4 linked regions of the Homo sapiens genome follow. The protein of the gene in region 1 interacts with the protein of each later gene in a pairwise test. Each region holds a gene or a part of one and is shown in the gene's direction. Other genes may lie near its edges. The genes, in order: GPATCH2L, PLAGL2, DIP2A and ZNF398.

Region 1 (4,156 bases):
AGCTGGGTATACAGAGAAGAAAGGCATTCCTGCTCTCATGATGTTCATGGTCTTCTGCGGAAGAGACCAGAAAAAAAGTATTACAATGTAGAATGAAATAAGAATGACAGGGTATTTTGGCAGCAAGGAGGAGGGCACTTTAACTCAAACTGGGCAGTGGAAGAAGTAAAAAAAAACATTGAAAGAAATCCTGAAGGATAAGCAGGAGTTAAGAAGAGTGGATGAAGCCCTCCAAGGGTAAAAGCATGGTTTATTCAGAGCACTGCAAGTGTTTTAGTATGGCCCACATGTAAAGCTTACAGAGGAACAAAGAGAGAAAGGCAAGAGCCAGGAAGTGAAGGGTCCTGTGTATACTGGCTTACTTGTTGAGTTGGAGAACTATTGCCGTATTCCTCTGCTAAGCTCAGGGTGCATTCGTGGAAACCCTACTGCAACTGGCCCATTGTGCATACAAAGCTGGAACTGAGATGTGAACAGATTTGCATTGCCTTGATCACCTTCCGTGGGAAATATAGCTAGGCCCACTTATTGGTAGGAGCTACTGACATGTTAAAACTAGGTTAAACTGAATTGGAAGTAATGGTGTATTTGGAATCATGGCTGACTGATTCCATTACATGTTCTAGCATGATACCAGTCTGAGGTTATTCCCCTTGAACCACCGACTTAGTAGAGTTTAATGCACAATGTGATGGTCTTAGTTCCTTGTACTGTTCTTCAGTGTCAAAGTTGTTCAACTACCAGTTAAGTTTTTTGGGCTTTGTTTCTCAGTAGTGACAATAAATTTGTGTTGATCTATTTACACCTTTTGGACTGAACACCTTAGCAATCATTGATATTTTAAGCCTACAGGAAGTGCCCATGGGATAAAACCAATCTGCTGGCTCACACTAAGTTCTGATCCCATGATTTTGGTCTCATTAATACCGTGCTATAAATAAAGTTAGCTAAATCTTTTGAAACTGCATAAAAGTGAAATAATTATGAGTTTTGGGCCAACATTTTTCCTGAACAGCTTCTGACTGACCAGCATTTTAAATTAGGCGATGCAGTCTAGCTTTTGTACATAGAAATAAGAAAGTGACTTATGTTCCATTATTAAAATAGTATAGGGAGGACAGGTAAATTACTAATTTTTCATTGCTCATAGTAGAGAATTAAGGTATATTGACTAGTGAAATAGAGGATTATGGGGATCATATGAAAATATGATTAAAGAGATTATCACTAGAAGAAAAATTCAGACTGCTAATTATGAGAAAAAACATGTATGCACAACCAAACAAATCACAAAAATGAAAGATGTCTAAAACCATAGAATAGGAACAAATGTACCTGTCATATTAATAAAAGTAAACTTATCTGTAGATAAAAGGCAAAAATGTCAGCAAACACTAATTTCATGTTATAAGATTCAGAAAGGTTGAGCAAAAGTAAACCAAGCAAACACAAACAAGAAAATGAGTTGTAGTCTGCATATCAGGCAAGGTTGAACTTAGGGAAAAGGAACCGGAAAAAAAAAAACCAAAAAAAACCACGACATAATGCTAAAGGGTGTGACTCACGAGATAATGTTTCTAGATATCTGTGTACCAAATAATGGAAAACCATTTATGTATTGGAAACCATAGGAGACACAGGAAGAAACAAATACAATGTTAGTTGGATATTTTAATTCAATTCTGTCAATTCATGACAGATCAAGTGGATAAAAAACTAGGACATGGGATGATTTAAATAAGATACAGAAGATCTAGTTGATGCATATTAGACTTTACCCTAAAAGTGGTAACTACACTTCAAAGTATCCATGAAACATTTCCCCATTTGACTGTGTATTAGAGCGTACAGAAAACATAAGTTTCAGAACGGAAAAAAGGAACAACAGATGGCATTTGCTGATAAAAATGCAATAAACTTAGAATTTGAGGATAGGTGGTCAGAAAAAAAAATGCAATAAATTAAAGCCAGAAAACACTGCTCATCTGCAATCCAAAATGTTTTTAAGCTCTTCAACTATTCTTGGGTTGATTAGGAAATGCAAAGTATTAAAAAAACATTTCATATCTAAAATATAAACTTGTTCCTCTGAGATACAAATAAAACAGTGCTCAGAGGAAAATTCATTGCCCTAAAATTTATGTATTAAAAAATAAGATAAATGTCATATAACTCAAAATATTAGGAAAAGGAATCTTTTAAAGGCAGGCTAAAAGAATCAAGAAAAATTAATTAGAAAAATGAGGAAACAAAGCTAATTTTTAAAATATGTAGTAAAATATGTAACATTTTAGCTAACATTACAAGAGAAGACAAACACAAAATAAGAATTACCAAGTATTGAATAGGTAAGAGTCATAAAATATTCTTTGCTCAACTGTATGCAAACAATTTAAAAACTTGGATTAAATGGATAATTTTCCAGGAAGGTATAGTTTGCCAAAAAATGACATCAAAAGAAATCTAATATAACAATTGTCATAGAAGAAATGAAGTAAGTATTTCAATTAGCATGACAGACTAAATACTTTTAAAGACCCAATGAAAACAAAGAAATGCATTTGGAGAATTAACAGAAACTTTTTGTAACACCAATTTTTTATTTTACATTTTAAAGCATGGAATGGAATTTATTGTAAAGACGTGTATTTTATAGAATCCAAGCAAAAGCTCACCAGCCAGAGATAAAGTGAGGCCAGCTCAGGGAATGTGAGCAGTGGCGATTTATTCCCTCTGGTGTTCCATGTTAGCCTGACACAGAGCCCCCTCTTCACATTCTCAGGGGCTCTTGATCCAAAACCTTTTTTAAAAAAAATAATTTTAGACTTAACAGAAAATCTGCAAAAATAGATTTCCTGTGTGCCCTTCTCTCAGCTTCTTCTAATGTTAACTTACATACCAATGGTACAATTATTGAAACTAGGAAATTAACATTGGCACAATCCTATTAACTACATACTTTATTTGAATTGTAGCTGTTTTCCCAGTAATGTTGTTTTTCTGGTTCGGTATTCAATCCAGGATCCATATGTACTTGGGTCTTTCTGGGTTTTCTGTTCCACTGGTCTACTTGTGCATGGTACCACACTGTTTTAATTATAGAGACTTTATAGTATGTTTTAACAACTGGCAAGGCTAGTCCCCCTTATAATTTTTCCTATTGTGCTTCTGGCTATTCATACATGTTTGTTTTTCCATGTGAACTTTAGTATCAACTTGTCTAAATTCATTTTTTAAGGTACATTGGTATTTTATTGATATTATATGATATTAACTGATTTAGAGAGAACTAACATCTTTAAAATGTGGTGTCATCCTATCCAAGAATAGGAGATGTATTTCCATTTATTCAAGTCTATTTTGTGCCTTTTAGCAGTGTTTTAAAATTATCCTTGTGTAGGTTTTGTGCATTTCTTGCTAAGCTTATCCCTAAGTATTTAATTTATTTGCTAGTAAATGAGATTTCCTCTGCCATTATGTCTTCTAACTGGTTATTGCTCTCTATATAAAAGCTACTGATTTTGTATGCTAATATATCTTGCTACCTTACCTAATTTTTTTAAAAAAATAAACAACAGAAATTTATTTCTTATGGTTTCACAGTCTGGGAAGTCCAAGATCAGGGTGCTGGCTGATTCAATGTCTGGTGAGAGCTTGCCTTCAGGTTCATAGATGGCACCTTCTAATTGTGTCCTCACATGGTGAAGGGAACTAGTTAGCTCTCTGGGGTCTCTTTTATAAGGGCATAAATCCCAATCACTAGGGCTCCACCCTCCTAATCTAGTGACCTCCCAAAGGCCCTGTCTTCAATGCCAACACTTTGGGGGTTAGGATTTCCACCTGTTTTCGGGGGACACAAACATTTATACCATAGCAGTCAGTAACAAACTCTTTTTGTTTTGCAGCCAAAGGTCAGTCAGTTTTATCTTCTTAGCTTAGTATAATCTAAGCCCTAAAACCATGAAATGCATGGGAAAGGTTTTTTTTTCTCTTTTTCAACTTTTATTTTAGATTTGAGGGGTGCATGTGCAGGTTTGTTACCTGGGTATATTGCGTGATGCTGAGGTTTGGGGTATGAATGACCTGTTACCCAGGTACTGAGCATCCGTACAGAATTCTTTTACTTTTGAAGTTAGTTTTATCATTGCTCCTCTAG
Region 2 (7,234 bases), on another chromosome or scaffold:
GAGTTGTGCCAGTAACTGGGAAGGATTGTGTTTGTTTTATGGAAACAGGTTCTGTCAGCTTCTCTATAGTCTATAGTTGTTAAGATTAAAATGTGAGACCAGAAGAGCAGCTTTGAAAGAGAAGTAGAATTCTTTCACAGTTTTGCTGAGGAAGGACAAGTCTGAAGGAACAGGCCTTCTGCTTATGTAAGACAAACCCAGGAATCTTTCTGGATCAGAGGAGTTTTCAGACAAAGGGCAGAGAGAGACTAGATCCCCAAAAGGGTTCCTAGGTAACACTAGCAGCTTTGGTTATCCAAGAGGCTGCTGGTGACTGTAGGTAGGGACTTCCTGTGCCTTTTGAAAAGTGTAGGAGAGTAGGATCAGGGTGTTGGCTCTTTTCTTTGTGAAGACATAGCCCCATTAAAAGCAGATCAAGGTGAGCACATGGCTGCTGCTTTCCTCCTTTGGTTCTATCAGTACAAGCTCCTTAGCCACCACCAGCCTCTTTCCTAGAAGCCCATTACTCACTCTTTCAGTAGCAGCCTACTAAACTATTGTGTCTTGTTTGTGCTTGTTCAGGAGAACAGATGAGGTGGACGTGTGGGAGGTGGGGACGTAATGTTCTCTTTCTGAGTTTGTGTGGAGTTTCCAGGGCTAGGCTCCTCTCTCACATCAGCCAAATTGATGTGACTTGTTTCCTTCTGGCTGCCATTCCCAACTTTCCAGAGGCTGAGGTGCATGATTTCAAATTGAAGGGGGAGTAGAATTTGACTTTGAAGGTAGGGGTAATTCCCTCCAATCTAAACATGCACACTCGAGCACACTCTCTGCTCAATTCCAAGGTGCATAGTAATTGCTGGTATTACAAACAGGTAATTCCACCCTTGCAAAGGAGGAGGGGACTTAAACAATGAAAGCCAGACGTCACAGGCCTTTGAGGTTTATAGTGAAGCAGGCACATATGCCATAATGACTTGAAGGCTCAAGTGGGACTAGTTTTTAGTGCTACCTACCCCTCCCCAGCATGTGATTCATGCAAAATGCAGCCACCTTAATGCAGATCTTTCTAGACAAATCTACACTCGTGATGGGGACGTGTTTATCATATTACATCGCAGTGTTTCTTCAACAAGAGGAATGGTTCCTGAACAGGACGTAGCTCATGTTAATGATGAGCAAAGCTCTCTGGGGCATGAACCCGCTGATCCCATCATCTTGTTCACGGCCAGTCTGTTGGATGAATGGTCACTGTAAGCAGCAGGTGCTAATGAGCTGAGCAAGCATTCTGTGGCCCACAGCTAGTTTGTGCAGTTGGAGCCCTCCCCAGATTCTCGTGGATAATCCCCAGACACCCCCTTTTCTCTCTTCACATGGAAAAGCCTCATGATCAAATTTTGGCACCATCTCTTCAAAGGGAATCCCCCTGTTGTAGCAGGTTGCATCGTGGTTGGTAATCTGTGGTAAGCTTGGGAGTATGAATGTGGGTCTCTTGTCCCCTTTTGAGAGTCAGTGTGGTAACTCCCATCCTCTTCCTCTGGATTAGTATCTGGAATGGAGTTGTGTCGTTCTTGCACATCTCCCCTTCTATTCAACAAGAGAAAGAATCAGACTTTAAGATTTCGGCTCCCCACTTGGGAATGGCTGCGAACCCAGTTTAAACCAGAACTACCTGGGCCTAGGTTGGTCCCTGAGAATCAACCTGCATTCAGTGACTAGTTTACCTATCTGAAATAAAGTTAGGGTTCCTTTTCTAGATATTAGGTATATAGAGATGAAAGAGAGATGATGCAAGCCCTCAGACAATCAGGCTGGTGGAGAGGAGTAAATTCCAATGCGAGCTCGCTACCGTCTTCTAAAGGAGATGTGCATATGTACTCTGAGGCCCTGTAGGAGGGGCCTCTCAGCACCTAGGGGTGTTGGACAGGCTTTGCTAAAGAGGGATGGTCTGGGCCCTGAGACACAGTGACCCAGAGAAGTGGTGGTGGTCAGGATGGGACCAGTTCTAGTCCTGGTTTAGGGAAAATGCTAAGAATCTGCTGTTGCCTTCCCATATAGACCCTCCTGATGTTGATGCACTGCTAAGAAACACATCTGGTACCAGGACTGACTAGGATGTAAATTTCCTAAGTAGAGGCTTCCCCTTCCTCCTCTCTTGCCTTTTGGGCATTTTATTGCTCCTTAGCACCTCCATGAGGAGGACAATTGTGGAAAGTAGTGGACGAGGAGGTGCCAGGGTAATAAGAAGGAGGAACCGCTATCTCTAGGTTCAATGGAAAGGATATAAAAGTGAGGTCCAGAAGAAAAAGTTTGAAGTTTTGGGGCTTTTGGTTCCTCAGTTTATCTTGTTTCTTATTAGCCTAGATGGTACTAGTAATAGTAGCTACCACTAAGCACTTAATGGATGCCCAGCCTTCTGCTGAATGCTTTATATTCATGATCTCATTTAATCCTCAAAACATTTTTATAATTTAGGAGATTATTATGCCCATTTTATAAATGAGGAAACAGCTCAGGGAAGTAAGTAATTGGCTGAAAGTCACACAGCTTCTAAGTGGAAGGGCTGGGATTGGAACGGGATCTGTCTGCTTCCAGAGCCCATGTTCTCATGGTATTGGGCTCCCTAACACCAGGTGTTCTGATGTTTCAGGTGAAGAGATTGTTTTCTGAAAGCTGCGTTGGAGGCTGTGACAGAGCTGAGAGCCTGTGTGGAGCGGATGGGGAGGCTTTCTCAATAACATGGCCCTTTGCCATTAGCCTTGCCATGACCACATTTTTCACCAGCGTCCCCCCCTGGATTCAAGATGCAAAGCAGGAGGAGGAAGTGGGCTGGAAACTAGTTCCCAGGCCTCGGGGCCGGGAGGCGGAGAGTCAAGTGAAGTGCCAATGTGAAATTTCGGGAACACCTTTCTCAAATGGGGAGAAGCTGAGGCCTCACAGCCTCCCGCAACCAGAGCAGAGACCATATAGCTGCCCTCAGCTGCACTGTGGCAAGGCTTTTGCTTCCAAATACAAGCTGTATAGGTAGGTGACACTCTCATATCTCTTCCTGCCCTGAGGTTCCCAGAGGGAAAAAGCAGAGAGACTCTGCCTAGTGTGGGTTTTTAATCTGTGGCAGAAGAGTGGAGGTTAATTTGTCCTACAAGTATACCCTGAATGCCAAACAGTTGAAGTCACTCACTAAAAAATGATTCAGATTGCTTGATTCAGACACTAGAATCTGATGGGTTGCCTCCCCAAAGTATTGGGATTGCTGGCGTGAGCCACTGCACCTGGCCTTCTTACACCTTCTTAGTGACGATCTGGGTGCCAATGTCAGGCAGCCTTGAGTTTTGTTTGTTTGTTTGTTTGTTTTTTTAAGAAATGGGAGTCTTGCTCTGTCATCCAGGCTAGAGTACAGTGGTGCAATCAGCTCACTGCAGCCTCCAATTCCTGGGCTCAAGTGATTCTCTTGACTCATTCTCCCAGGTAACTAGGATTACAGGCTTGAACCACCGCACCTGGTTGTTTTTAATTTTTTGTAGATATGGGGGTGTGGCTGTGTTCCCCAGGCTGGTTTCAAACTCCTGGGCTCAAGTGATCCTCCTGCCTTGGCTTCCCAAAGCAGTGAGATTACAGGCATGAGCCACCGCACTTAGCCCTGAACATTTTTTTTTAAATATTGCTTTCCTCACCTTTGTCAGGTGATGGTCAGAATTTTAGCTAGAAGTTAGGAATCAGTATTCGAACTTTAGAAGGAAAAGTAGACCTTCTGGCCCAGTCTGTAAATTTTAAAGTAGAGGTTCAGAGTAGGGACATAACTTACCCAAGGTCACACAGCTTCAGAGGTCCTGCAGTGCCTCTTCTACTGAATCAGCCTGCTACTTACTCATTTAACTATGTCTGTCTCCCTGTTGCCCACTGGGGCAGCTGCTTTTCTGAAACTTGTAAGCCCAAGAACCCCTACTTAAAGTGAAATTAAACGTAAAAGCCCTGACATAAGGCAGATAGAGAAGAGCAGCTTTGGTTGCTTTGGTGAGGATGGGGAGGCATGGTCAAAAGCAATTTTGGGCCAGGCGTGGTGGCTCGCACTTGTAATCCCAGCACTTTGGGAGGCTGAGGCGGGCGGATCACTTGAGGCCAGGAGTTTGAGGCAAGCCTGGCCAACATGGTGAAACCCCATCTCTACTAAAAATTTTTTAAAAATTAGCTGGGTGTGGTGGCACATGCCTGTAGTCCCAGCTACTTGGGACTCTGTGGCAGGAGAATCACTTGAACCCAGGAGAAGGAGGTTGCAGTGAACTGAGATTGTGCCACTGTACTCCAGCCTGGGTGACAGAGCAAGACTGTCTCAAAAAAAACAAAAAAGAGCAATTTTGATTTTATCCTTTTCGCATTAGAGGAACCATGAACTTGCCCTTTAGAAATGAGATAGATCAGCCGGGTGCGGTGGCTCACGCCTGTAATCCCAGCACTTTGGGAGGCCAAGGCAGGCGGATCACGAGGTCAGGAGATCGAGACCACGGTGAAACCCCGTCTCTACTAAAAATACAAAAAAAATTAGCTGGGCGCGGTGGCAGGCGCCTGTAGTCCCAGCTACCGGGAGGCTGAGGCAGGAGAATGGTGTGAACCCAGGAGGCAGAGCTTGCAGTGAGCCGAGATCACACCACTGCACTCCAGCCTGGGCGACAGAGCGAGACTCCGTCTCAAAAAAAAAGAAATGAGATAGATTGGCCTGATGCACAGTCATCCAACCATCCATTCATCTATCCAACATTATTGAGCTCTTGCTCTGTACCAGGCACAGTGCTCGGTGCAAGGGGCGGAGTAGTGAGCCAGACAGATGGGGGTGCTGGTCCTCCTTGGGTTTATGGTCTTAATAGTGGGTACAGACAGTAAACAAGTAAATACATGAACAAGATGACCACAAAGCCTCAGTTCCTCATCTGGAAAACAGTTAATAGGAAGGGACTAAAATAGGCAACAGGGTAGCATGGTAGTCAGGATTGCCCTCTTGACAATTCTGTGGTCCTCAGGAGTGCTTAGATTCTCTGTGTGCTCCTATAAGTTAAGGGAACTCCAGTCAAGGCCATACTCTTAGGCTTTCTTTTTTTTCTTTTTTTTTTGAGACAGGGTCTCACTTTTGCCCAAGCTGGAGTATAGTGGCGTGATTATAACTAACTGCAGCCTCAAACTCCTGGGCTCAAGTGATCCTCCTGCCTCAGCCTCCTGAGTAGCTAGGATCACAGGCATGTACCACCACCACACCCGCTAATTTTTGCATGTTTCCTAGAGACAGGATCTCTTCCCTGTGTTGTGCAGGGTGATCTCAAATTCCTGGCCTCAAGCAGTCCCTCCACCTTAGCCTCCCAAAGTATTGGGATTACTGGCATGAGCCACTGCACCCGGCCTTCTTAGACTTTCTTAATGATGATCTGGTTGCCAGTGGGCGGCTGCAGGAAAGGTCCTGGGTCAGGAGGCAGGAGCCCTGACTCATCACATATAATTTACTGTGTGATCTTAGGTGAGTTGCTAGACCTCTTTGGGCCTCAGTTTCCTCACCTGCAAAATGAGGGAAATGAAAAGTGGATCACTCAGCACCTCCCTCTCTACATTACCACGTCAGTTCCATCACAGGAGGTTGACAGTAACCCACATAGGCACGAGCACTCTTGAGCATGCATATGTGGGATGTGGGCAGGGGGTGTGTTTGATACCCTCCAGGTAGAAAGGATCACAGAGTGCTGTACGAGAGAGAGACAGCTGTTGCATACCTGACTGAACATAGGTCTTCCGAAGGCCTGTTTAAATTCAGCCTCTGCTAGGGTGAGGGGGCTGCCTTTTTTTTAGACTCCTTTCCTTGTCTGGAGATCAAGGTTAATGACACAGCTTATGCAGAGCCTGGCAAACAGTGGGTGCTGAGTTGATTCTGAATATGCTCTGGAGCTGTGAATTGCAGTTCCTGGATTCTGAGCCACTTTTCAACCATATAGGATCAGGTAAACCAAGGGACACTGAAGTGCCATACCATTAAAACATTTCTTAAAGTGTTACTGGTTTATATGACAAGCAATTCAAGTGGTACATACTGGCATGCAGTGAAGAATGAATGATCCTCACACTCGAAGTCACTATTCCTCTCCCCAAAGGCAGCTGGTGGGTTGGTTTTTGTGTATCCTTCCTAAGACATTCAAACATGTATATTCTCTTTCTTTTTTATTTTCAAAACAGATTGTATCACATGTACTGTATTGAACTTCCTTTTTTGACTTAGCCCTGTATATCTTGGAAATTTGTTCTAGATAAGGAAGTTTATTTATTTATTTAGAGACGGAGTCTTGCTCTGTCACCCAGGATGGAGTGCAGTGGTGCGATCACAGCTCACTGCAACTTCAAATTCCTGGGCTCAAGTAATCCTGCCTTAGCCTCTTGAGTAGCTAGGACTACAGGTGCATGCTGCCATGCCCATCTAATGGTTAAGATTTTGTAGAGACAAGGTCTCGCTATGTTGTTCAGGTTGGTCTGAAACTCCTGGGCTCAAATGATCCTCCTGCCTCACCCTCCCATAGTGCTGTGATTACAGGCATGCACCACTGTGCCCAGACTGCACGTTTAGGTATATTTTATTTTCTCTTTATTGTATCATTTAAAATTATTTAAATGTAATGTTTAAAAAATGAAATACTTTCACGTAATTCAAAATTCAAAAAGTACCAAAACTTATACGATGAAAATTCTCCATGACACCCATCTATAAGCTGTTCGGTTCTTTTTCGCATAGGCAGCCACTGGTATCAGTTTCTTGTATGTCCTTCCAGAAATATTTTAGCCATATACAAGCAAACATACATATATTTTTCCCCTTTTCACATAGAGTCCTAGTCTACATCCACTATTCTGCCTCCTTGCTTTTTTTCTACTTCCTGTCTCTTAGGAGCATGTTCCCTGTAAGTACACAAAAAGCCTCATTTTTGAAAAGTTGAGTCATTTTATGGACTTATCATAATTTATGTAACCAGTTCCCTATTGATAGATTGGACGTTCAGATTGTTTCTGATTTTTTTTGCTACTACAAGCAATGCTGCAAAGAATGTCGGTACACATTATTTTGCAGATAGGCAAGGATATCTGTAGAATATAACTGGTTTGGTATTGCATTGCAAGCCTTTACCATGGTTTTTATATCTAGTTTCCTGTTAATGGACACCTTTGGTTGTCCAGTCATCCCTTGTGATCTCCCCTCTTTCTGCTTTCTCCCCTATCCCCTGTCTCTACC
Region 3 (3,859 bases), on another chromosome or scaffold:
GGCCCTGGGCACAGGCCTCCTGCATTGTCACCCTGGTCTGCAGTGGAGCTGGGTGCCATGTAGATGAGCCCTATCTACCTTGGGCATTGCCAGAGAGGGCTGAGGACTTCTTGTGGGTTCTCCCTCTGGATGTACTCTGCAAAACATGGTGCCAGAGCACACCTCACTGCCTGTGTTTGGGTTTGGCTTGTTTTTTTATCTGTTTCCTTATCAGTGGTAAGCTAAGAGATTGTCCCCAAATGCACAGGCAAAATGTAGATTTCCACAGGTCTCATCCTGAAGTGTTTCTACTTTTAATATGAGTTTCTCACATGGTTGTGACTCCTGATTCCTTCACCTGTAGGGAACTTGTGTTGGGACAGGTACAGCTTTCAGCATCAGATAATGCTCTGATTCTCAGTAAAAGCTTTAGTTGGAATAGACATCCTGTAAAATGGATCTGGCCTGATCTTTAGATTGTAAATGGCCTTAAATAGCTGTGTGACATTGGTGGGCTTCACTCTTCTTTGTGCCACCCTTTCCCAAGCATTCATTGGCCCCTGTGACCTGTGCCTGTATCCATGTGACCCAGTCTGTCTTCTCTCTGCAGTGCCGTATTCACCTGGACCAACCTGCTGGTGGTGGTGGTGGAGCTGGATGGGCTAGAGCAGGATGCCCTGGACCTGGTGGCCCTGGTGACCAACGTGGTGCTGGAGGAGCACTACCTGGTCGTGGGAGTGGTGGTCATCGTGGACCCAGGGGTGATCCCTATCAACTCTCGGGGTGAGAAGCAGCGCATGCACCTGCGGGACGGCTTCCTGGCTGACCAGCTGGACCCCATCTATGTCGCCTACAACATGTGAGCGCAGCACACCGGCCCAGGTGCCGGAGATGAATGAGCCCCAGCAGTCCAAGGTGTGATGTGGGAAGACACCGCAGAGCTCACTCACCGGGACTCGCCCTTCCTGTGCTCTTACAGATCCCTCTCAACAATCCCCGCATCTCCTTTTAGAAAGCACTTCCTGAATTATTTAAAGAAATATTTTGAATCTGCCAAGTACATTTACAAAAACACGGATGCTGGTATTTTAACAGATGGAGAGACAAGGAAAGGAAAGGAAAGGCCTGGCATGGGCATTGTGAGGAATCACAGGCACCGAGGTTGTTCTCTGCTGTACTGCAAGTTTGCACTTTCTTTAGGCTAAAAATATAGTTCCTGATTTTTAAAATTCAGTTATTTATTCCCACTTCAAATGACAAGTTCATATATAGAATTTACGGGAGAAACTTGAGACCATTTACGGGGAGAAACTTGATTCTGGGAAGATAGCAGAGTACAAACCAGCTGCCTCACTTCTGTTTCACAGGGAGGCTGATGGAAAAAGGAAGCAAGCTGGACCCATCCTCCCTGCTCACAGAGGGCACTGTGGTCACACACAGTGCCTCCTCTGCCAGTTCCTTTATTGAAAGAGGTGTGCTGGCTGGCCACGGTGGCTTACACCTGTAATCCCAGCACTTTGGGAGGCCGAGGCGAGCAGATCACGAGGTCAGGAGACCGAGACCATCCTGGCTAACATGGTGAAACCCTGTCTCTACTAAAAATACAAAAAATTAGCCGGGTGTGGTGGTGGGCGCCTGTAGTCCCAGCTACTTGGGAGGCTGAGGCAGGAGAATGGTATGAACCAGGGAGGCGGAGCTTGCAGTGAGCCGAGATCACGCTACTGCACTCCAGCCTGGGTGACAGCACGAGATGCCGTCTTAAAAAAACAAAAAAGAGGTGTGCTGCTTGTCAGCATGTATTGTCACGGACACTCAATAAGTGCCATTTTGGACTGTCAAATTTAGATGCTTTGTTTCAGAAAGATAAGCCAGCATTTAGTTTTAAATCACTTTCCTGGTTTGTAACTTGATGCTGTTTAGTTAAATTGCTAGTTTTCCTAACACTACAATATTAATTCTTCTCGTGGAAGTGTACTGATTTATTATTTTTATTCCAAGTCAGCAGATTTGGAAGCATTGTGGTAAAGTCTAAGGTTTTCATATCCATAGTGCTGTTTGGTGAGTACCGGCAGTACAGTTGAGGGGAGCAGGGAACAGCATTGCCCCGTATTGAAGGTGGAGATGGTTACATTCTTCACTGCTTTTTGCATTTTGAGTTGTGTGCCTATAAAATTTGGCCAAACCATTTTATTATTTTGTTCAAACTTGACTAAGCTGAGTGATCTAAAATTATACAGAACCTAAATCAAAGAAGAGAATGTAAAGTCCTTTAGTTACTTCTAAGAATTTGAAGTCAAGCACGAATCTAAGACATAGATTATTTTTATATAGCTAATGAAGAGTATGTTACGAAATTGTTGGGTTTTTGGGGTATTGAGGGTGGCAAATTTTGTGAATCATGCATGCTTCACAGAAACAACCAGGTTTTTCCAGAATTAGTCTGGATCAGTGCCTAACAAAGCTGTTATTAATTCTCCACACATGAGTCTGGCTAACTGGGCCAGCTCTCATGTTTTACTCCTGTCTGGCTACAAATAGCACTGTGCATAGTAGCCCTGTTTCCCCATGGTGTTGGACTGTGGTAAAGTATGTTGTGACATACTGGAATTCTAATAATCCTGTTGTAAGTATGTACAGAATCTATGTAACTTATTGTTGACATACAGAGGTTTGGGAAGTAGTCTAATGGACATTCCTTACAATAGAATGGCTGGGAAGGGAAAGAAAAAAAAAAAAAAACTACCTAACTCCAATCTTAATGTTGTAGTTTTATAGCAAACAAAAATTGTCAGCTTTTTGTATTGAAAGGTCAGTGGTGGTAAGACAAGGTGTCTTGTAAATTAAGATTTTAAGAAGTGCATTAAAATGTTTTAGAATTACTCTGGGAATTCTGTATATCACACTAAAATTTTTATATCATTATGTTAATAAAAGTTATTGACTTTGTAATTCTGCATTTTGAAATGTGTGAAAAGGGTCTTTAAATTACCCCGAATAGGTTGTATCTTATTTTGCTTTTTTTCTGACTATAAAAGCAGTTATGCTTATAGCATAAAATCTAGAAAGCACATTAAAGTATAAAGAAAATTAAAATTTCTTATAATTCTACCTCTGAGTAAACAGCAGCATTCGTATGTAACATAAACCCTCTCAGGGATTTATTTTTTCTTTTTAAAAATTTTTTACAAAATTAGGATCAAGTGCTTTTTTAAATAATTTGCTTTTGTACTTAATAAATTATAGACTTTAAAATCTATTACATATATTCTTCTACATGTTTCAGTGGCTGTATTTTACAAGTGTGCCATGAGTAAATGTAGTATTTGCTGTATTGCCGTACATCAGCGTTGTTTCAACAGGACTGCAGTGAGCCCAGATGCACGTTTACACTGCCATGATTACAATTACTGCCTTGGGCTCAGTTCTTATAGGTAGAGTGAGTGGGTCAGAGTTCATGCCAGGTGTGAAGCTTTGGGTACCTGCTGCCCTCCAGAAGGGCAGGATGACAGCATGGAAAAGGCCTCTTTGCAGATGCCAAGTAATGTTGGCAATGGACATGTGCTCAAGATTAAAATAACTCTTTAACAATTTGATAGGCAAATAAGTGTTGTGTCTGGTCATGTTGAATATGTCCTCGTGTTCATGGCCATTTTTAGTTCTTATCTGATGTATTTTGTTCAGATTTGGCAGTCCTTATGGTCAAGTTTTTTCTTACTGACATGTAGGAGTCTCTTTCTATTAAGAATTATAACCTCCATATACTTCTTACTTTTTCTTGTGGGTTATTTGTATTTTGGTTCTATCTGTTTTGGTGCAGATGGTTTTTTAGATGTTATATTTATGCAAACTGGTTATTGTGTTTGATTTCAGATTATGAATA
Region 4 (5,324 bases), on another chromosome or scaffold:
CTGTACTCCATCGTGGGCAACAGAATGTGATCCTGTCATAAAATAAATTTAAAGTGTCATTTCATTTCTCTGATGATTTGCCACAGAGACCACAGATGTCTCGGTTATTATTGCAGCCTTCTGCTGTATTTCTGATCTGAGCTTCGAGTGATCTGTTAGAGCTGGGTAGGAATGCATGAGAGTTGCTAGTGAGACAGTTATTGATGGGTATAACTCTGGAGTCTTTTCTTTCAGATGAAGAGCTTGTCATCAAAGCTGAAGGCCTTGCTAGATCCTCGTTGTGCCCTGAGGTTCCAGTCCCTTTCTCTTCTCCACCAGCAGCAGCAAAGGATGCTTTTTCAGATGTGGCTTTCAAAAGCCAGCAGTCTACATCCATGACACCTTTTGGACGTCCAGCCACTGACCTGCCTGAAGCCTCTGAGGGACAAGTGACTTTTACTCAGTTGGGTAGCTATCCCCTCCCACCTCCAGTTGGCGAGCAGGTGTTCTCATGCCACCACTGTGGCAAGAATCTCAGCCAAGACATGTTGCTGACCCACCAATGTAGCCATGCTACTGAGCACCCCTTACCCTGTGCCCAGTGCCCTAAGCACTTTACTCCACAGGCGGACCTCAGCAGCACCTCCCAGGACCATGCCAGCGAGACACCCCCCACCTGCCCACACTGTGCCAGGACTTTTACTCACCCATCAAGACTTACCTACCATCTTCGGGTCCATAACAGCACTGAGCGTCCTTTCCCCTGTCCTGATTGCCCCAAGCGCTTTGCTGACCAGGCTCGACTCACCAGCCACCGGAGAGCTCATGCAAGCGAAAGGCCCTTCCGCTGTGCCCAGTGCGGCAGGAGCTTCAGCTTGAAAATCAGCCTCCTGCTCCACCAGCGGGGTCATGCACAAGAGCGCCCTTTCTCCTGCCCTCAGTGTGGCATTGACTTCAACGGCCACTCGGCCCTGATCCGCCACCAGATGATCCACACAGGCGAGCGTCCTTACCCCTGCACTGACTGCAGTAAGAGCTTCATGCGCAAGGAGCACCTGCTGAACCACCGGCGGCTGCACACAGGCGAGCGGCCCTTCAGTTGTCCTCACTGTGGCAAGAGCTTCATCCGCAAGCACCACCTAATGAAACACCAGCGCATCCACACCGGGGAGCGGCCCTACCCCTGCTCCTACTGTGGCAGGAGCTTCCGCTACAAACAGACACTCAAGGACCACCTCCGTTCAGGCCACAATGGAGGCTGTGGGGGTGATAGTGACCCATCAGGTCAGCCACCCAACCCACCAGGTCCCCTCATAACTGGGCTTGAAACTTCTGGCCTGGGTGTCAACACTGAAGGTCTAGAGACCAACCAGTGGTATGGGGAAGGGAGTGGAGGGGGAGTTTTGTAAATCCAAATCTCTGTGGCTTCATGCTTGTATATGCTCACAGCAGGGCACAAAATCCAAGAGAAGGTCTGTGAGCCCCATCCAACACCCACAGTAATTATTATCTGGCACATCAATGAATTTGGGGTCCTATACACTTGACTAGAGACATGCTTGTGTTTTGGAATTTCACACCCTTACAAGAATACCACATTTTGAAACCCAGAAAGACCTGGAAAGGAGCCCAGCATGTCCATCTTTTCAAAGATACAACAAAAGCAGAAGTTACAAGAATATTGCGGAGAGGTTGGAAAGCAGGATTTAACCTCTAGTTCTCTTGTTCTCAGAGAACAGCAGGTTGATAGTAGATTATGTCTCTAGGTAGAGACAGATACATGAGAAGAGCCTCCAAAACTGGAAGCCCATCATAAGGCATGAGAATGTTTAACTATAAAGCCTTTTATTAGTTCTTTGATAGCTAAGATGGTTGTTGGAGAAAGTGCTTAAGCCACTGTTTATGTTGCTGCCTCCTCTCTCAAAACCAGCCAAGATCTGTTCACACACCTCTGTGGCTGTCTTTCCCTGAAACATGGTAACTCAAGACTGCCTGCCTAGGTTTCTTAGATTAATTATTCACATAAATTTTGTTTAATATTGGTTGAACAAGAAATCTGACTTTAAAAGATTATTAAGGAGAATATTCCTTAACTATACTGGCTTGATTTGAAACAGGCTCTTATTGCCATTTAAACTGCCAGAAATCTTTGCCAAGGTCCTGGTTAAAAAAATTGGAAACGGTTTTCTTAGCCCCAGCTTTAAAAGCTAGAGATCTCAGAGAAATAGCTGGCTTAACAATGACAGAACAGCTTAAAATTTGTGCCTACACCATGTTCTGAGAGTCGTTCACATCAAATTCTTATCTTTTCCAAGCCAGTAAGTTGGCTTCTCCATTCCTGGTGTCTGATATTCTTGACAATCATCAGCAACAAAGATCACAGCACTTTCCAGAAGCATGGAGCTTCAGAAAGTGCCAGTGAACTCTTGGTCCTCAGTAGTGAGATGATAACAGTGTTATAATGCAGCTTCCTTGAGCCATCAGAGAGAGTGTATGTTCACCCTATCTGGCTGTATCCCATTGGCAGTGGACAGATTGAGGAAATTCCTAGATCACTGAGAGCTAAGCACCATGCATAGACAACAGTTTGTTCTTGCCTGTGTTGCTTTTAGGGACTTTGACTACCACATGTTCTTTTCTTGGGGTGATTTAATCACCTGGGAGCATCTGAGTCTGCTCCTAAGTGGCTTTGCAACTGGGCCTAAGTTCTGTTTCCTTTATGGATCTCAAATTTTCATCTGCACAATGAGGCTGTTGAAAGGAAAAAAAGTGAGCCTCTAGGAATTATTCAAAAAAAGTCTGTGATACATTCCTTTTCCTGCCAAAGTTCTGTCTCTGTCTTTGGCTTCTGTCCAGGCAAAGCTAAATAAGACAGCAAAGTCAAAGCAGATAAATTCTTGTTGAAACTTGACTAAAATTTATTTGATTTGTTGTTTTACTCCCACTTGGAATCCTGAGGTAGAAGACAGAATGCAGAAGTCTTACATCTTGGGCAGGAAACTGGTTTATTCCTATACTCTTGTTTCCTCTGCTTCTTCCTGAGGTCTAGAACAAGGTCTGGAAATGTTTAGACAGGATATTTTCTTGATGAAGTGATAAGGAAAGGACCCATTTTTTTGCTCATCACCTAGCCCATCCTTCACTCTCTCTAGTTATGCATAACAACACTAGAAGAAGGTGTTAGCCCAGCTAACTTTGCTTCTGGGAAGGCTATGTCTGAACATGTTGCTCTGTAGGATAATCACACTTAGAAAACATCTGCTCCATGACATTCACAATACCAGGGACCATGGGAGACACAAGAAATGTGTGTCTGCTGTCATAACTTACAGTGAAAAAGCCCAATAATACAGAACAAGACATGATGGGCAATACCCTAGCATATTGGGATTAAGAGCTTTCTAGCCAGAATCTGGACCTATACCATGGGAAAATTTAGGGGTGCTGGGAATCCCAAAGCCAAGGTTCTGGCTTCATTGGCAACCCACTAGGAACTTGAATGTGAGATTCAGCTCTAGTTTGCACCTTGATTTCCCCAGTGAAAAGGGAGAAGAGCCAAAGTATTGTCTAGGTGCTGAGTTCCCTTTTCTGAGTGGATTTCAAGCATTTGCCAGGGTATGCTGGAGGAGGGACTCCTAAAGTAGGTGAGATGTGGGACTAGGTAACACTTTAAATACTTTTTTACTCAAAGATTTGCCAAGAACACAGCTTATTAGTGAAAGAGACCTGTGGATTGAAATGGCTGCAGATAGATCCCGCAGTCCCTTCTGAAAGGAACTGTGTAGCCAGCAGGGACCTAAACTTTGGCAAAAAGTGAACACAATTCAAATACGAATGAAGGAAGAGCCCTCAGATGGAACGAAAGGCGATGTGCAAGGCCATCCCAGAGAGACGGAAGCAGGTGCGATACTAAGCCTCAGCCCAAGAATAAAAGAGAGTTCAACTGTTACTCTTTTCTTTCATCAATCCCCTATCAGTTAGAACTGCAGGCCAGTTCCAAAGAGTGTTTGCTTAAGATTCAAAAGTGGGTAAGTAAAATGGATCAGTGGGAAGGATAAGGTGTCCAACAGAAAGTGTGGAGGAGAAACTCTTGGCCTATCAAGTGCTCCTGAGAGAAACCATGCAATTTAACACTTCAGTTAAAGAAATACATGAGAACTGCTTGTCATGACCAGACAAGATAGGAAAGGGGAAACCCCAGAAACGTGCTCTTCATCTGTCAGCCTTTTGGACCAAGAAGCTGTCACTATCACACATAAGCACCATTCCCTTAGAGTGGATCCAGGTGTTGACTATAACCAGATTTACTCTTTGCTTACTAGGTTTTCCATTGTCACCATTGGATGAACCTCTGGTTTAGCCACAGTTGTGAAAATAAATGGAAGTTGGTTGATTGTCTAGAAAGTGCAAGAAGATGGCCCTGCTCCTTTTCTGCTGAACATTTAGTATTGGAAACTCCTACTTCCCTTTTCATTAATAATGTGTGCAAGTTTCCTATTAGCGGGGAAGGTGTGGGGCTCTGCTGGGCTTCTCTTGAGCATATCTGAGAAGTGATGTTCATGTCTATCTCAACCAGGACCAGACCCTGTGACTTACTCGGTAATAACAGTCCACACAAGCCTCGTTGATATTAAAAAAAAAAAAAAAAAAGGACCTCATTCCAAATGGAATGGGAATCCCTAATTTCTGCTCAGATTTTCTCTGAGGAGGGGCAGGACTCCTGCCCTTCCTCTCATGTCTTAGCTTCTTAAACTACAAAAAGCATCCTCAGTGACTGCCTGAGGGCAGCTCAGTAGCCATGAACAAAAGCATCTTTCTTTCTCAAAAATATTTTCTTACGGACAAGGACCTCTGATGTCACCAAATATGTTTTTTTTTTTCTTTCTTTGTGCCTGATTTTTTTTTTTTTTTTTGAGACGGAGTCTTGCTCTGTTGCCCAGGCTGGAGTGCAGTGGCACGGTCTCGGCTCACTGCACTCCGCCTCCTGGGTTCACGCCATTCTGCCTCAGCCTCCTGAGTAGCTGGGACTACAGGCGCCCGCCACCACGCCCGGCTAATTTTTTGTATTTTTAGTAGAGATGGGGTTTCACCGTGTTAGCCAGGATGGTCCCGATCTCCTGAGTTTGTGATCCACCCTCCTCGGCCTCCCAAAGTGCTGGGATTACAGGCATGAGCCACCGCGCCCGGCAACCTGATTGATATTTCTAACCCTGTTCTCTTTAGTCTTGGTTTTTTGTTTGTTTTTGCTGAAAAATTGTTTTTAGAGAAGTCTCACTGTATTGCTGTGTTGCTTAGGCTGGTCTTGAACTCCTAAGTTCAAGTGATCCTCCTGCCAAGGCCTCCCA

Evidence for each region.
Region 2: the proteins of GPATCH2L (region 1) and PLAGL2 interact in binary tests that used the Homo sapiens proteins (3 or more experiments, as listed by UniProt).
Region 3: the proteins of GPATCH2L (region 1) and DIP2A interact in binary tests that used the Homo sapiens proteins (3 or more experiments, as listed by UniProt).
Region 4: the proteins of GPATCH2L (region 1) and ZNF398 interact in binary tests that used the Homo sapiens proteins (3 or more experiments, as listed by UniProt).

Annotation. Positions count from the first base shown.
Region 1 is NC_000014.9:76,210,889-76,215,044, forward strand, and holds the end of GPATCH2L (G patch domain-containing protein 2-like), read left to right. Parts: 3' UTR 1-3,455; downstream 3,456-4,156.
Region 2 is NC_000020.11:32,197,688-32,204,921, reverse strand, and holds part of PLAGL2 (zinc finger protein PLAGL2), read left to right. Parts: exon of another isoform or gene 1-1,442; intron 1,443-2,629; 5' UTR 2,630-2,743; coding exon 2,744-3,003; intron 3,004-7,234. UniProt on the Homo sapiens protein: Shows weak transcriptional activatory activity.
Region 3 is NC_000021.9:46,566,781-46,570,639, forward strand, and holds the end of DIP2A (disco-interacting protein 2 homolog A), read left to right. Parts: intron 1-589; coding exon 590-842; 3' UTR 843-3,235; downstream 3,236-3,859. UniProt on the Homo sapiens protein: Catalyzes the de novo synthesis of acetyl-CoA in vitro. Promotes acetylation of CTTN, possibly by providing the acetyl donor, ensuring correct dendritic spine morphology and synaptic transmission.
Region 4 is NC_000007.14:149,178,414-149,183,737, forward strand, and holds the end of ZNF398 (zinc finger protein 398), read left to right. Parts: intron 1-234; coding exon 235-1,388; 3' UTR 1,389-4,629; downstream 4,630-5,324. UniProt on the Homo sapiens protein: Functions as a transcriptional activator.